2 separate regions of the Homo sapiens genome follow, and region 1 is linked to region 2. Evidence: fine-mapped expression QTL. Tissue or cell type: sun-exposed skin. Region 2 holds a variant in brackets; the other region holds the start of a gene. All regions are shown on one strand. Distances are from middle to middle.

Evidence for each region. PIP is the estimated chance that this variant, and not a neighbour inherited with it, causes the effect.
Region 1: it holds the start of MPST, and the variant in region 2 is fine-mapped to the expression of MPST in sun-exposed skin (GTEx, PIP above 0.99).

What each region holds. Positions count from the first base shown.
Region 1 is chr22:37,016,351-37,024,444 of GRCh38, reverse strand. It overlaps MPST (mercaptopyruvate sulfurtransferase), which reads right to left and starts at 4,703. Exons shown (of 3, transcript NM_021126.8): 1 at 4,573-4,703; 2 at 1-253. The coding sequence starts at 4,608. TST (thiosulfate sulfurtransferase) reads left to right here and starts at 4,998. Exons shown (of 3, transcript NM_003312.6): 1 at 4,998-5,045; 2 at 5,692-6,307. The coding sequence starts at 5,713. RefSeq lists silencers at 4,387-4,706, 4,717-4,836, 4,867-5,256, 5,417-5,476 and enhancers at 4,950-5,451, 5,480-6,455.
Region 2 is chr22:37,329,600-37,337,697 of GRCh38, reverse strand. It overlaps LOC105373024 (a long non-coding RNA gene), which reads left to right and starts at 5,562. Exons shown (of 4, transcript XR_938232.3): 1 at 5,562-5,805. RefSeq lists a silencer at 6,896-7,190 and an enhancer at 8,089-8,098. The variant T/G (reference allele first, on the strand shown) is at 4,516.

The DNA.
Region 1 (8,094 bases), 310 kb after region 2:
GCAGCATGTGGTCGTAGGGCGAGGTGCGGTCGCTGCACTGGTCGATGTCGAAGAAAGCGGCGCCCGGGATGTGGCGCTCCTCGAACTCGCGTCGCGCGTCGCGCCCCAGCTTCGGCAGGTACCAGGAGGCGTCCAGCAGCTGCAGAGGCTGCCCAGCGCGCGGGGCCCGCAGCGCCTCCGCCACCCATTGCGCCGACACCAGCGCGCGGCAGAGCTGCGGCGAAGCCATGGCGGCGACACTCGGGCTGCGGGCCTGGGCGACAGGGAGGATGTCAGAAGGGAAGCAGGGAGAGGCCGCTGTTGGGGCTAGGGCTGGGGCTGGAGCATGGGCGAGGGCCGGCGGGGGAGGTGCGGCCCGTGCAGGGCAGAGTCCAGGGAACGCAGAAACCAGTGGTGGTGAACCCGGGCACAAAGGTGGGTAGCCAGGGGCCTCCCTCTGCCAGGCCTCATATAAACACAAGCTCCGAGTGACCCAATGACCATGACCTCCCGGAGAGCCCCAGGCCACGCCCCTCACCTCCACTTGCTGGGCAGGAGGGTGGGTGGAGGTATCCTAGGGCAAGGCCCTGCTGGCTTCAAGGCACAAACAGGGGCAAAGTCTCCACCCCTCCCTAAGATGCAGCTCGGCTTTATTTGCAACCAAGTCCCAGACGGAAGTCATTCATTCACTCATCAAGCATTTATATTGGCGACCTAATAGGAACAGTAGCTGGAATTTACTGAGTCCTTGCTGGGTACCACTGAATCCTAACAATATCCTAGAACAATGCCTGACACAGTAGACTCTCCAGTATGTGTTGAATGAGTGATCTTAAGAGGCCTGGTATATTATTGTCACCGTTTCAAGGAGGACACTCAGGCTCACAGAAGTGCACTAACCTGGCCTGGTGCGGTGGCTCACGCTTGTAATCCCAGCACTTTGGGAGGCCCAGGCAGGTGGATCACCTGAGGTCAGAAGTTTGAAACCAGTCTGGCCAACATGGTGAAACCCCGTCTCTACCAAAAATACAAAAAATTAGCCGGGCTTAGTGGAGGGCACCTGTAATCCCAGCTACTCGGGAGGCTGAGGCAGGAGAACTGCTTGAACCCAGGAGGCGGAGGTTGCAGTGAGCCGAGATCGTGCCATTGCAATCCAGCCTGGGGAACAAGAGCAAAACTCTGTCTCAAAAACAAAAAACAAACAAGAAAAAGTGCACTAGCCTGACCCGGCGGTGCCAGGCTTCTCACTAGGCAGTCAGTCTGGCACCAGAATCCGGACTTCTCAGACACACACTCTGTGCAGGCTCCAGGAGTCTGGCGAGGCCAGGTTTTGCCTGTCCAGCCTGGGCTCTCTCTGGCCCTTCTAGCAGCAGCAACAGTGACTTCGCACCTCCCTCCCTCTCCTCTCTATCTTTCCTGCATACCAGAGACAGTGCACCAGCTCGCCAGCCCACTATGCCAGGCCAGCCCACAGCCTTCCTGGGTGTAAACTTCCCAAACACTTTAAGCCCTTTGTGCTGGGAAGCCACCGTTGTGCAGGTGAGAGGAAAGGGCCCCTTCTGCCAGGCAGAGGCTGAGCCCCCACCAGGGCACATGGCTGGGTGTGTGGAGTATGGGCTGCAGATCAGCCCTCACTTATCCCCTGTGTGAGGCCCAACCTTGACACCCACTGCATGCAGTCCTGCCAGCGAAATGAAGGGGGCAGGTAGAGAACAACATCTGTGGACCGAGTGCCTCTGTGGGCCAGGTCACATGCTAGGCACCGCAGCCTTGGGCGGGTATTAGGACGCCTGCTTTATGAATGAGGCCACTGGCAATTAGAAGAATAAGTGCCTTGCCCGTGGTCACAGGAGGCAGCCTCAGGATTTGCAGCCAGAATTTGACCCCTCAGGCTGGACTTCCCCTGCCCCAGGTGCCATGATGACCAGGGCCTAATGAGTTCTAGGGTGACACCCTGTGCCCACCCCCACAGTCTGGCCGCAGCTGGCTTTTAGGAACCTACTTCACCCATGCGGTCAGGCCTTGTGCCGGACACCGAGGCACTCTTGCCTTTGCCAAGCCCTGGGGGGAAACGTCAGGCTGCAGGCAAGAGAGAGTGAAATTGAGGATAGTTTAGAATTCAGTGTTGAGCACAGAGGGCCCCTATGTTTGCCTGGGGTGGCAGCAGAAGAGGTGGGAAGGCTTCCTGGAGTAGGAGGAAGTCCAGACTAATCTGACTTTTCCAGGGGCCCAGGAAGCCTCAGCACGGTCTTTAGGGTAGGGAGGCTGCCAAGGGGTGTTTGGCTAAGGGGTGATCCCCATTATCTGCGTTACAGCACAGCTAGGGGGCGCTGTGCTGGCAGATGCTGCAGGTTCCTTCCTGAGGAACCCTATTGTGGGAACCACAGCAGCCCCTGTGCACCCCCAAACACTGTCCCCTATTCTTGAGGATCCTTGTTTCCCTCACCCAATCATCCATTTACAGTAGAAAGAGCCCTGGTTTAGGAGCCAGAGAGCCCCCCAAATCAATGTAAACCCCACTCCACTGCTTAACTGGTTGTGTGATGTGGGTGTGTAGGGTCTCTGGGTGGTTTCTGTTCCTTATAATGGAGCTTCTCACCTCCACCTCTTAGAGCCAAGATTAAACAATAAATGTAGAGGGGCAACCACCATGCATTACATCTGGCTGGTTTTAATAATCATTAAAAACGGTTTAGGTCGGGCGTGGTGGCTCACACCTGCAATCCCAGCACTTCGGGAGGCCAAGGCGGGCGGATAACGAGGTCAAGAGTTCAAGACCAGCCTGACTAACATGGTGAAACCTCATCTCTACTAAAAATACAAAAATTAGCTGGGCATGGTGGCATGAGCCTGTAGTCCCAGCTACCCGGGAGGCTGAGGCAGGAGAATCGCTTGAACCTGGGAGGCAGAGGTTACAGTGAGCCGAGATCGCGCCACTGCACTCCAGCCTGGGCAACAGAGTGAGACTCCATCTCAAAATAATAATAATAATAATAATATTGCATTATTTCTTCCATTACTCTCATTGGTGGCCCTGGAACTGCCAGCAGCAAATCTAAAATCTTAGAATTTCAGGGCTTGGTGGGACTTCAGAGATCTGAGGTCACCCTGCCCCAGTCTCCCTGCTTGATTGGCACTTCTCACAAAGGTCTGTGGGCCATAAAGGAGGGTGTGAAGGCAGGCTGTGGGTGTCAGGGAGGGGTAGAAACCAGGTGCCTGTGTGATTCAGAAGCCGGGATCACTGTAGGTGAGGGTGCCCTGGGAGTGGAGGACCCCAGGACGTAACCGCCCCAGGCTCATGTCAGAAGGATACACAGCTGCACTGAAGCAAGCGTGAGCCGCAGGCTGGATCCAGGGTACCCCTTGAGGAGCAGAGCTTGGGAGCTCCTCTTGGACCTCCCCAGCCTGGTCCCTCCTGCCCACCCCCTCCCCCAACCACCAGACACTAGGCTTTGAGGATTGCTGTGAGCATTTTAGAACAAAACCTTTTTTTAAAAAGAGGGATGAGGCCAGGGATGGTGGCTCATGCCTGTAATCTCAGCACTTTGGGAGGCTGAGATGGGCAGATCACTTGAGCCCAGGAGTTCAAGACCAGCCTGGACAACATGGTGAAACCCCATCTCTACCAAAAATTTAAAAATTAGCCGGGAATGGTGGCACATGCCTGTGGTCCCACCTACTTGGGAGGCTAAGGTGGGAGGATCGCTTGAGCCTGGGAGGCGGAGGTTGCAGTGAGCTGAGATGGCGCCACTGCACTCCAGTCTGGGCCACAGAACCACAGCCTGTCTCAAAAAACAAAACAAAACAAAAGGTCAGGGTTGGGAAACAGGGAAAGCTTCCAGGCTGGCCTCTGCAAAAGCTAGGGAGGGGCAATGGTGTCCCCCAGTTTGCAAGAGCCCATGGCGAGCTTTTCAGGAATTTTGCCAACTGGTTGTTAAATACAGCTATTATTAAAAATTGAATTACATCAACTTATGATTAAACGGGCTAAGTTCAAAACAGGCAATTTTTTAAAAAGCATGAACCTTCAGGGAAGAGCCAGGTAAACAAAGGCAGCTGGTACCACGTGGGCTTCAGACCAGGGATCAGGCCCGGCCTCAACTCTGGGTGTGTCCTCCAGCAACTCGCTCTGCCGCTCTCTCCTGTCTTAGTAAGTTTCTGGCCTACTCCTCAGGGTTATTGTGGGAATTAAGTCACACCACGGGAGTACCCAGCAAAGTGCCACACCAAGCAGGGCTGGACAATGTTAGTTCCTTTCACTCACTAACAAGTTATTGGCTAGTGTCTCTTCCTGGGGCCTCTGGGTCAGCGGGGTCTCGTCTCCCTGTCCTCCTCTCTCTCCCCCGCCCTCTCTGGTGCCACCAGGTCACCCACTTCCACCCAAGGCTCCCCACCCGCCACTCGCCACGACCCCACCCGGCAGGCCGCCCCAAGCGGACAGTCACCCTTAGTGCCAACGTAGCGGCGCGCCTTCTCTCCTAGACTAAGCCCCCTCTTCCGCCCAGGTCCCGCGCGGGAGCCCCGCGCCGAGCACCCCCAAAGAGCCACTCCCTCCCCCTCCAGAAAGGCAAGCCGCCACGCCGCGGCAGTTACCCGGGTCTCGGACTCCCGGCTTCCTGGCTCCGCCATGGCCCCCGCGGCGCGGCGCCCCCTCCCCGCGCCCGCAGCTGTCCCCTCCTCCCGCCACCAACCTGCAGCGGACCAAAGGGAGGAGACTCCGGCACAGCCCACCGCCGCGGCCACTCGGAGCCGCTGCTGCCCGCGCCTTCCACTGGCCGGGCCGTGGGGGTACGCCCGCTCCGCCCAGCCCAGGCCCGCGCGGCCCCCGCGCCACCCGGCGTCCCCCTCAGACCCCCGCGGGTCCCGGAGGCCCCGCGCGCGAGGTTGGCAGGTGCCGGGCGCGAAGCGGCCGCGCGGGGGAGGCGCGGGATGGCGGCGGGCGGCGCAGGGTCCCCCTCTGGCGGTGGCGCGATGGTGCGCGCCGCCTGGGGAGCTGCGGCCGGGGGTTTGAACCGGCCAACTTCTCCAGCCGGCCGGGGCGAGCGCCAGCGCGGCGTCCGGGGCGAGTGAGTGCGGGGCGGGGGCAGCGGCCGGGCGCCTGGGCCGCCGGTCGGGCCACCTGCTGCCCGGGGAAGGATAGCGTTGCGAGAGTGGGACGGGGTGCCCCGGGAACCCCTGATCCACCTAGGGCAGAGGGCAGCGAGCTACGGGCCGGACTCGGGCACTCTGGAGGCGGGCGAGCTCGGGCTGCCTGGGGAGGCCGCAGGCGATGGCGTGTGCGCGGCTCGCGGAGCTTCCTAGCCGTGCGCCCACCCCCTCTGCCTTGGAAGGAAAGGGGATTCTAAGCCCAAGATGCCATCGCCCCCCATCCCGGGCATGCTTTCATTGCTCTTTCCTGGCGGGATCGAGTACTGTAACTTCTAGGAGCCAGATCCCCGCCCCAGGAAGCGCCCCTACTTGGAGTCCTCGGAAACTCTTGCCCCACCCGCTTCTGCGCTGGGCCCCCGGGCCGGCTGGGAGGGGCGGGGCCGGCTTTCCAGAGGGAATCTGCAAACTTATCCCGCTGCACGCCCCAGCCTCGCTGGCTTGCTGTAAACAAGGAACCCGGGGGAGTGCGGAGGGAGAAAGAGCTTCTCCCAGGCCTCACCCTACTGCACACACCGACTTCCTTCCTCACGCCTGTCTCTCTTTCCTGGTTCCCACCCGTGCCAGGTGACACGCAGAGCTGAAGCCATGGTTCATCAGGTGCTCTACCGGGCGCTGGTCTCCACCAAGTGGCTGGCGGAGTCCATCAGGACTGGCAAGCTGGGGCCCGGCCTGCGGGTGCTGGACGCGTCCTGGTACTCACCAGGCACCCGAGAGGCCCGCAAGGAGTACCTCGAGCGCCACGTACCCGGCGCCTCTTTCTTTGACATAGAAGAGTGCCGGGACACGGCGTCGCCCTACGAGATGATGCTGCCCAGCGAGGCTGGCTTCGCCGAGTATGTGGGCCGCCTGGGCATCAGCAACCACACGCACGTGGTGGTGTATGATGGTGAACACCTGGGCAGCTTCTATGCTCCCCGGGTCTGGTGGATGTTCCGTGTGTTTGGCCACCGCACCGTATCAGTGCTCAATGGTGGCTTCCGGAACTGGCTGAAGGAGGGCCACCCGGTGACATCCGAGCCCTCACGCCCAGAACCGGCCGTCTTCAAAGCCACACTGGACCGCTCCCTGCTCAAGACCTACGAGCAGGTGCTGGAGAACCTTGAATCTAAGAGGTTCCAGCTGGTGGATTCAAGGTCTCAAGGGCGGTTCCTGGGCACCGAGCCGGAGCCGGATGCAGTAGGTAGGTGTCCCAGTGCTGGGTGGTCCCTGGGGAGTATTGCCCCATGGAAGGATAGGGAGTAAGGATGACTGGGACCCTCTCCAGGGTCCGTCCCATGCCTTCAATCCTCCCATGTAGGCCTCAGTCTTTCCATCGATAAAACCAGAAAGTGGAGACAAACCTAAAGGCTTTTTCAGCTTGGATGCACAAGGACCCAAGAATGTGTCCTCATAGCCATGTGCTAAGAAGCCACCTAGCATCTGTGTGAGCAGAAGTCACTGGTGACATGTCCACCACCTCCACTCCCAGGCACCAGCTGCCCCACATGTACTAGGATATACCTAAGGGTGTCATGCCCCTGAGCCAGCGTTTGCATTGCTGTACAGAAACCTCCCACGGACACATCCAGCTTCTCCAGGCCTCTCTCGTCCCGCAGAAACCCTTATAGACATCAACAGTGTCCCTCCCCGCAGGATCCCCCTCTCCCCAAATCTAGCTCTCCTGGGGCCCCTGCCTGCTGTTTGCAAAGGTTCCATAACCTTTCCAGGCAGCTGCAGCCCGTCGGCAGAGTTGTAACAGCAGCTGCCATTTCATGCCAGACACTTGGCACCGCATTATCTCAGCGAACAAAGCTCAATGCCCCTGTTTTGGCAGCGGGGGGTGGGGGGACTGAGATGCCAGGACATAAAGTGGTGGAAGGCAGGATTCGAATCCAATGCTGCCTTGTTTCAAACCAGGGCTATAAACCAGGACGCACCCAATGCTGCCCTACCCCTACTTCCCAGGGCCAGGAGGGAGTCCCCTCTGCTAGTTGCCCCAGGAAGGCGACTCAGAAGTTCCCCTCCTGTGGAAGGGAAGGCCAGGTGGATTGGATACTGCTTGAGGGTTGGGGAGAGCCTCAGGAGAGGAAATGCTGAGTTCTAGAACCTCCTAGCCAGACAGAACCTCGGAGGTCTTCCCTTTTCTAGAGGCAGGACTGCCGTCTCGCTGCCATCACTCCTGCTGAGTGCCCTCCAGTCCCTGCCTGGCCATTTCCAGGAGCAGGGCCCTCTCTTGTCTCTGGGCACCTCCTTGGTGGCTCTTTCCTCAGTCAGAGCTCCTTCTCTACAGAATCTAACTCGTGTGCAACATTTTGCCTGACTTGTTGAAAAACATCTCTTCCTGTCTGTACCTCCTACAGAGAGAATGCTGGGAAAACTGTTCTGCACACTCTTAGAGCTGGAGGGCCTGAACGGTGACCTCACCTGACAGAGGGGAGACTGAGGTGCACAGAGGCAGGGGCCAAGGCCGCATAGCTAGTTAGTGACAGAGCCAGGACAGCAGGGTCTCTGCCCTTTCCAGCGCAGCTTTTTCCAGGCCCCATATTTTTCTTGCCTGCTTGCTCTCTGAAGGTCTGGAGTTGAAGATTCAAGTTCATTTGGCACCTCCCAGAGAATCCTGGCTGGGAACGCCTGCAGCCCTCTCCTGGCCTTGGTTCAAGACGCCTCTTCTCCTTGGGATTTAAGCTGTCATGGGGGAGGATCAGTGGAATTGGTTCTCTTGCTGCTTCCCAGCCTGCCCTGAAGCAACCTAAGAAATAAGTGGAAGGGACAGCTTGGAGGTGCCAGGCCCAATGTCCTCACCCATTTTACAGATGAGGAAACTGAGGCTCAGAGGAGGAGAATGGCCTGCAGTGGGTAATGCCTCCTGAAGGCCCGGGATGCTGAAGTTCCTCCTCTGTAATTGTGTTCACACCTCCTTCAGTTTCCCTCAGGAGCATCAGGGAACATGGATTCTCATTTCAGCTCAGCCACTCCTCCTTGGAGTGA
Region 2 (8,098 bases):
AAGGCGGACAGAGAGGGGGGCAGAATCCCCTGGCATTGGCTTTCCTCCTGCCCTCCAGGCTCTTCCCAGCTGGGAGCCAACTGATGCAGGAACCAAAACAAGGCCTGTGTGGCCTTGGAGAAGACACTTGCTTTGAGCCTCAGTTTCCTTTCCTGTTAAAGGGACCCATCAGTCCGGCCTTGCAGGTCTGTGGTTAAGGCAGGGCTGTTTCTCTGCCTGGCACTGGGCCCCAGCTCAGCCCTCTTAATCTGCAGAACTTGCCATTACTCCCCTGCCCTTCTGGGCTCCCTGTGTCCAAGGGGCCCTGAGGACTCAGAAATGAGTCAGACCCTGGCCTCTAGGTTCTCCACTCACTTGGGCCAGGCTGTGGTTGCAGACTGTGCGGTGCTCTCACAGAAAGCAGGCGGGTGGGTACCTTTCACTCCAAAAGGAGCGGAGAGCACAGGGTGAGGTGGGGGCTGGAGCTTCAGAAAGGAGGCTGCATCTGGAAGGCCAGGGAGGACCTCTTGAGGGCTCTGAATGTCAACCTGCATTGCATGAACTTGATCCTCAAGGGGAGGTGGGGGACAGGCCTGGCAGGTGTGCATTGGGAAAGCCCTGTTAAGAGCCAGTGCATGTCAAGCGCCTTGGAACTGTGCATCGGGGATGGTGGCCTGGAGGGGACGAGCTGGAGGCAGGAAGACTAGGGAGGAGGGTCTTTCTAGAGGAGCTCCAAGACTCCCCTTGGACATGCTTTCTGGGACTGCTAGAGTGATTCCTTCTTTCCTGTCACGAAACACCTCTCCCTGTCCTTGAGCCGGGATTCTGAAAAGGTCTCTGGTTCCTGGGCCAGCCCCACCCTGCCCTGCCTTGAGGCCACATCTGCCACACCCTCAGCCTGGCCTAAGGTGCTAGTTACTTGTTGCTATCTCTGGGGACCTTCTTGCCAAGACTGTGCCGTGGAGGGGGTGGGGAGGGGAGGAGCTGAGAAGAGGGGGATGGGCAGGCCAGAGGTTGTGCCCGGTGCACGTGGGATGGAGTATAGGGTGATGCTGTGCTGGGCTGTGTGTGTATGTCGGGGGCGTTTGTCTTGGAGGGGCATGTAGAAGGGATTCCAGTGGTTCACTGGGGGCTTCGCCCACCACTTTTTAATTTTTATTTTTATATATTTTTTGATACTAAGTCTTGCTCTGTCTCCCAGTCTGGAGTGCAGTGGTGCGATATCGGCTCACTGCAACCTCCGCCTCTCAGGTTCAAGCAATTCTCTTGCCTCAGTCTCCCGAGTAGCTGGGATTATGGGCGCCCGCCACCACACCTGGCTAATTTTTTGATTTTTAGTAGAGATGGGGTTTCGTCATGTTGTCCAGGCTGGTCTCCAACTCCTGAGCTCAGGCAATCTGCCCGCCTCGGCCTCCCAAAGTGCTGGGATTACAGGAGTGAGCCACTGCGCCCGGCCACGCCCCCGCTCTTAGTTCTCCCTTCCAACCTTTTCATCCATCAAAGGTTACACTGGGACCCTGCGTCTGTGAGGTGGGGAGATATCTGAAGCTAGACTGGGGATCCCCTCCCAAACGGGATCCTGGGGACTGGCAGACAGCTCAGCTGCCCCCCACTCTCCATCATCCCCAGGGCTCCACCGCAGCCCTGCTCCTCTGTCCTGTGTCCAGCCACCCTGGAAGAGATGGGGGTGGAGTGCAAGGGACTTCAGTGCAGGGAGGGGCTGCAGGGAGGAGGAGGCGAGGTGGGTTTGAGGCCAGAAGACGGAGGGAGATGGGGAAGAAGAGGGGCACCCAGAGCAGCCGACAGCAAACCTAGTGAGCAGTGACAATCAAAACAGGGGCGGTTCACTGAAACTTCTGTGTGTCTGCTGGCTTCACACACTTTATCTGGCTTAATCTTCACTAGTATTATTCTTAAATTTTAGTTTTGTAAATGTTTGTATTTTATTTTGTTTATTAGCTGGAATTGCTAATGCATTTACACATTTGAATATTTAAGAGGTGTGTGCAATACTGAGTCTCCATCTCCCCCGGCTCATTCCCCAGGGACCAGGCTCCCTCCCTGGAGGCAGCCAGCTTCGCCAGCGACTTCCCTCCTCTTCCAGGCTGTCTGCGCAGACAAGCAAACATATGCATAGAAAAGCAAATATATACACATACATTTCCCACTTTTTAACCCATTAAAGGCTGGCATTCCATCACCCGAGTCTTCTGACTTCTTTTTCCACTTGCCTACTTACTAAGGCTCGGAGAGGTTAAGACAATCGTCTAGAGTCACACAGCGGGGGTGGAAAGATGGGCGGCGACCTCAGTCAACCGGTGGAGTGGGATGGAGGGGACAGGATCGGTTTCCGGTAAGAGAAGCGGGAGGAGGCGAGGAGAGCGCGGGGAGCGGGGAGGAGGACGGAGGCGCGGGGCCGGCGTAGGGGATGGGTGGCCAGCCTGGCGCAGAGACAGGAGTCTGGCGGGAGAGGGGAGCCGACGAGATGCGGAGGCGAGCAGGTTCCTGCTCCTGCTGCCCCCGCCCTGGCGGTTGCCGGTGGGACCTGCGACCACCGGAGCCCATGACCCTTCTTTACGCCCCCTATCGTATACTACCCTATCCAAGGCTGGGGTGGGGGCTTCTTCCTGGATGCCCCGCTCCGCCCACGCCCAAGTTCTCCGGCAGAGCCTACAGGTCCTCACTCCCTGCCCATCCTCGTTTCCAGCCTCTCAATCAGGCCTGCGAACGGGCGATGGCGATGCGGTTCTGGGCCTGCCCTAACCCTCTGAGCTAGGACCTGCCATCTGTGAAATGGGTGCATAGTGTGTGGGGGTGGGGCGGGGGTGACTCGGCCTTGGCCGTTCGAGGTTTGGGGATAGCTCGGTGACACCGGCCCCCTCCACTCCGATTTGATGCTCCCCCCAATACCTGGGTGCACTCGCCCCCCTTCCCCGCTACTCCTTGGCTTGGGGGAGGGGGTGGGTGACAGTCCCTGAGCATAGGCGGTCCTACCGATCCCCGCCCGCGCCCCCTTTCCAGATGCTCCTGGGCCGACGCCGCAGGTCCGGGCCAGCCCGGAGCGCCCAGGCGGGGCCGCCGCGGGCAGCCTCCGCGTCGCTGAGCTTTAATGAAGGCCCCCGCGGCGCCCGGCTAATGAGCTCTGGGCCCGGGGTGCGCGCCGTTCCGCCGGGTCTTCGGTGCACCGCCGGGTCCTAAAACGCGGCCGCTACTGACTGACCCTGGGTTCGATTCCCAGCCGAGACGTTTCTGCTCCATTCCGGCAGGAGCTACCTTCCCGAGCCGCGCTTTGCTCACCTGTAGGAGAGCTAGAGGGAAATAAGACAGCCCTTCTTAGGATGGTGGAGTGGCTAGAAAGAAGCAATCCACGCCAAAGGCTTAGCTCAGTTCCTAGACTTAGTAAATGCTCAATAAATGTCTGCCATTGTTATTATTATTTATTATGCTTCCAGCTGGCCTGGAAGGAGGGTTCTGGAGCCAGAAGGGACCTTGGAGAGACCTCGGTTAAATCTCTAGCGCCATCTTTATTTTTAGGATGGAGTAACTTGCTCAGGACCTACATCTAACATTGTGGAGGGGATGCGGTTTTTAAGTAGGAATTCTTGACTAGACCTCTCAGCAACCCTTCCTCTCCGTGACAGTGGGCGCTACACCCCTGTTCCCCTTCACTCTGTGTGTTTGTTCACCTGCTTTTCTGAAATGTCCAAACTGGAAGGGTTGTTAGCTATCTTCTGGCTAACATCTCTCACTTGCTGTGTGATTCTGGGCTAGAGGCTCACCCTTTCTGGGCCCATATTCACACCTGTCAACAGAGAAGGCTGCACTAGCCTGGCAGTTCCCAAACCCCGGCTACATATTGGAATCATTTGGAGAGGCTTTTTATCATTTTAATTTTTATTTACTTATTTATTTTTATTTTTTAAGAGACAGAATCTCACTATGCTGCTCAGGCTGGTCTTCAACTCCTGGTCTCAAGGGATCATCCCCCCTTAGCCTTCTGAGTAGCTGGGATTACAGGCATGAGCCACTATGCCCAGCTTGGAAAGCCTTTCAAAAATGCCAGTTTGGCTAGGCACAGTTCACGACGGCAATCCCAGCACTTTGGTAGGCCGAGGAGGGCAGATTGCTTGAGGTCAGGAGTTTGAGACCAGCCTGGCCAACATGGTGAAACCCTGTTTCTACTAAAAATACAAAAATTAGCTGGGCGTGGTGGCAGGTGCCTGTAATCTCAGCTACTCAGGAAGCTGAGGCAGGAGAATTGCTTGAACCCGGGAGGTGGAGGTTACAGTGCGCCAAGGTCGTGCCACTGCACTCCAGCCTGGGCCACAGAGCAAGACTCCGTCAAAAAAAAAAAAAAAAGTCAATTTCTGGCCCCTCCTCAGAACCCCCAGGGGAATCTGCAGCCAGCCGGATCCTGGCCCTGGGCCTGTGCCTGGGAAGCACATACCTTCCAGCTACGACTGTGAGCCCCTCCCCAGCCCCTTTCTGGGACAGATGGGGACACTGAGAGCCAGAGAGGGGAGATGTGTAGCAGAG[T/G]TGGAACTAAGGGCCAGGTGTCCATCCCGCCAGTCTCTGCTCCCACTGGGATTCCTGCCCAGCCTCTGTCCACTCCGAAGGCTGGGATGAGCGTCTAATGACCGTGTGCAGGGAGAAGGTCGGGGGCAGGTGAGGAGCAGGCAGCCTGGACCCTGCCTCTAGTGGACAGTCCCCATCCCCTTGTCTGACCCCAGGGTTGGGGGGGCCTGCCTCACTTTTCTGAGCTGACAATTGTAGGGTCTCTTGGATGCTCCCACACACTTCGAGTGCCCACAGCTCCCCCACGGGGTACCCGGGAAGGAGAGAAGCGGTGGTTGCGGGGGAGAGGGACGGCAGGAGTACAGGAGTGAGGCTTAGCTGTCTATGGCCTTGGGGGGCTTATGTTCTTGTCCTGGCTCCTGAGAAGGAACGGTTTGGGAGAGGAACTGATTGAAATGTACTTTGCGTTTCTGGAAATTGAAATACTCAATTTGAGAGCATAGCGGCAATTAGTGTTTAATCACAGGAGGATAGAGCATGGGTGGCTGTGCCTGAGCTGGGGAGGACGGGTGGGCTGATTACCCGTCCTGCTTCCTGCTGTGGGGGCTGAGTCCCATTCCTCCCCTTCCCTAGGACAGATTAAAGGTGTAATTTGATGAATCAATTTGTTTTCTGGAGGAGAGAAGGGAGAAGCAGAAATCTCATAATAGCTGGAAGCAAGTTGCTCCATCCTGTCCTACAGGAGTCTTCATCAAGGAGCCAGGGGCGGTAGGGAGGCAGACCCAGTAGAGGAGGCCTCAGTGGTGTCTTCCTTTGAAGTCATGCACACCTGAGTTCAAATCCTGGTTCTGCCATTTACCAGCTGCACGACCTTGAGAAATCCACTTAACCCTCCACTTCCTCATTTCTAAGAAGGACAGCCCAGCAGGGTAGCTGGGCTAATATTTAATATTAGTCAATGTGCCTTCTGCAGTGTCTGGCACTTAATGGATGATCTATAAAGGAGAGAGGATACTGGGGGTAGGGAGGGGTGGGCTGAGACAATTGACCCCTGCTGGGCTGGACTTGAGGTTCACGGCCACATGGTTCCCTGTGCAGCGCCCCGTGGGTCCCAGCAGACACAGCACCATAATGGGAGACTTCTAGGCCGAGAGGGCAAAAGCTTCAAACAGCAGGCGGCAGCACCAGCTGTGTGGTGGCTGGGAGCTGGTCTAGCCTCCGCCTTCCTTCCAGAAGTCTCCCCAGCATCCTCAACCAGGTCAGATCCCCCAGCATGACTCAACATCCCTTCGACTTCCCTTCTGCAGCCCTGTAAGTGCTGGGGGTGCTGTATGTGGTGGTGGGCACCTGGCATGCCAAGTTCATAGCAGGTGCTCTGTCAGTGCAGAGCTGGGCACTAGTGGCCCAGGGTGACAGGCTTTGGCTGGCTGGAGCAGGGCTGGGTCAGGGTCGGGAGAGGCTGGGCTGCAGCAGAGACAGCTCAGGTCTGAGTCAGACAGACCTGGGTTCAAATCCTACCCATCCCTCCCAGTGTTGGGGTAGGGGGCAAGTTGCTGCCCTTCTCTAAATCTTATTTGTAATTTGCTTTCCTGGGCTGGTTATTAAGAATAGTAGAATTTGTCTTCTACCTTCTCCTGGCAGGTGGATGCCTTAGCTCAGCTCCAAGGGACAGTTTTGGGTACTGAGAGGGAACAGGGATGGGGAAGGTGGCCTCCCTTTTACTGAGTCCATACCAGGCCCTGTGTTAAGCTCTTTATGCACTCTGAGTCCTCATCACTCCCTTGTAAGGCAGGAGTAATTCTTTCCATTTTCCAAACAGAGAAACTGAGGCTCAGAGAGGTTTCCTGGCTTGCTTAGTCTCAGCAGCGAGGAGCCAGTTGTTGAACGTGGGGTTGTGTGACTCAGAGCCTGGGCTCTGTCCAATCCCAGCTGGCAGTGGGGGAAGGAGGGGCCTGGGCGGGAGGCTGCAGCTGGGCGTGGGTGGGCAGGTGGGTGCAGAGGCCCATAGATGCTGGCTAATGGGCCCTGGTGGGCCCGGCGCTAATGGGCCCTGGAAGTGCCAGGCGTAGATTTAGTGGGAAGGCAGGTGCTGGCTGCAGTGGGCCAGGAACTCTTCTGCCCCTCCTTTCCCTGTCCCATTCCTCAGGCCAGGGAGGAGGGGGAAGGAGATGGGGGCTCAGGGAGGGGGCATGCACCTAGCTTTGCCACTGACCCTACAGCTGGGTCTCAGCTTTCCCTTCTGCCCAATGGGTGAATCATTCCCTCCCCTCAGGTTTTGTTCTGAGTACCAAGGGCCATACTCTGTAGGAATGAATGCTGTAAAAATCAGGGGGCCACTGAAGTAGTGACCCCCACCCCAAGAAAATGCTCTTTCTTTGGAGACTCTCAGGGCTTTAGGGATAGAAGCAGGTGTGCCCCAATTATGCCAGTTTCCCTTTTCTCCTCCCCGCCCCCAACCCCTGGCAGTCCTAGGTGAGGGACCGCACAGCCAGGCCTGAGTGGGTGGGTAGGTGGCGCTGGCGCAGCCAAGAAGTGCCTGCTTCTGATTGGAAGGCTGGTTTCCATGGCGACCGATTGATTGCCCAAGCTGCAGACTCAAGGGGAATGAGCAATGGGGCCTTTCTCCCAAGCTTCACTGCTCAGGCTTGGGCCTGGAGGCCAAGGCAGGGGTGACATCTTTGTGTCCTGTCAGGGACAAGGGGCCCACTAGGGAACAGAAGGGCACCTCAGCCCAGAAGCCACCACTGGGCACCTGCTGTGTGCACATTCTGAGCTAGCAATGGAACAGGAGGAGGGGACCTAGCATTTATGAAGCAACTACTATGTGAAAACGAAGCTGCTGGGACTAGAACCTGGCCCAGTGGAGTCCCAAGCCTGTGAGCCTAACCACCAGGCTGTGATGCTCGTCCATGCTGCTTGTGAGGACTAAGCACATTTATGGGACACCAGCAAGCATCCTTGGACCACCAGACTGTAACCCCGCTCACACCAAGCTCTGAGGGTGAGGGTGAGACAGTCATTGCTGAGGGAGATCAGGGCTGGGGTGAATGTTGGAGGAATTAGGGAGGAGGATTAAATGTTTGGGGTGAGGGTAGGGAAATAAAGGCACCCCAGGCAGGGCACTGGCTTGGGCAAAGGCAATGAGGTGGAATGAGCTGGCCGTGTGGCAAGAGTTGGCCCCTCCACCTGTGATGTGGACTCGAAAAGGAGGGGCGGCCGTCTCTCTGATTGTTAGCTATGCAGGCCTGTGCCAACCACACCCTACCTCCCCTTTTACCCCTTTCCCATGCCCGTCTTCCCACCTATTCTGTCCATTCTGCCTCCCCCTCACTGGGGCCTGGGTGAGTCCCTGGCCCTCTGGCCACAGAGGTCCCACCGGCCAAAGGAGAAGGCTGGCACCAGTGGGGCTGCCTCCAGGACTCCAGCAGGGGATGGTTTCTCCCCGTCCCCTCCACGGTCTCTTCTCAGATTCCTTCTTTCTTCTTTCTCTCCCTCTTCCTTCTTCCCTGCACGCACCACCCCCTCCAACAATATTCTCACTGTCTCTTTTCCTGCCCTGGGGGTGATTTTGTCCGATTGATTGCCCAAGCAATCTGAATTGCTC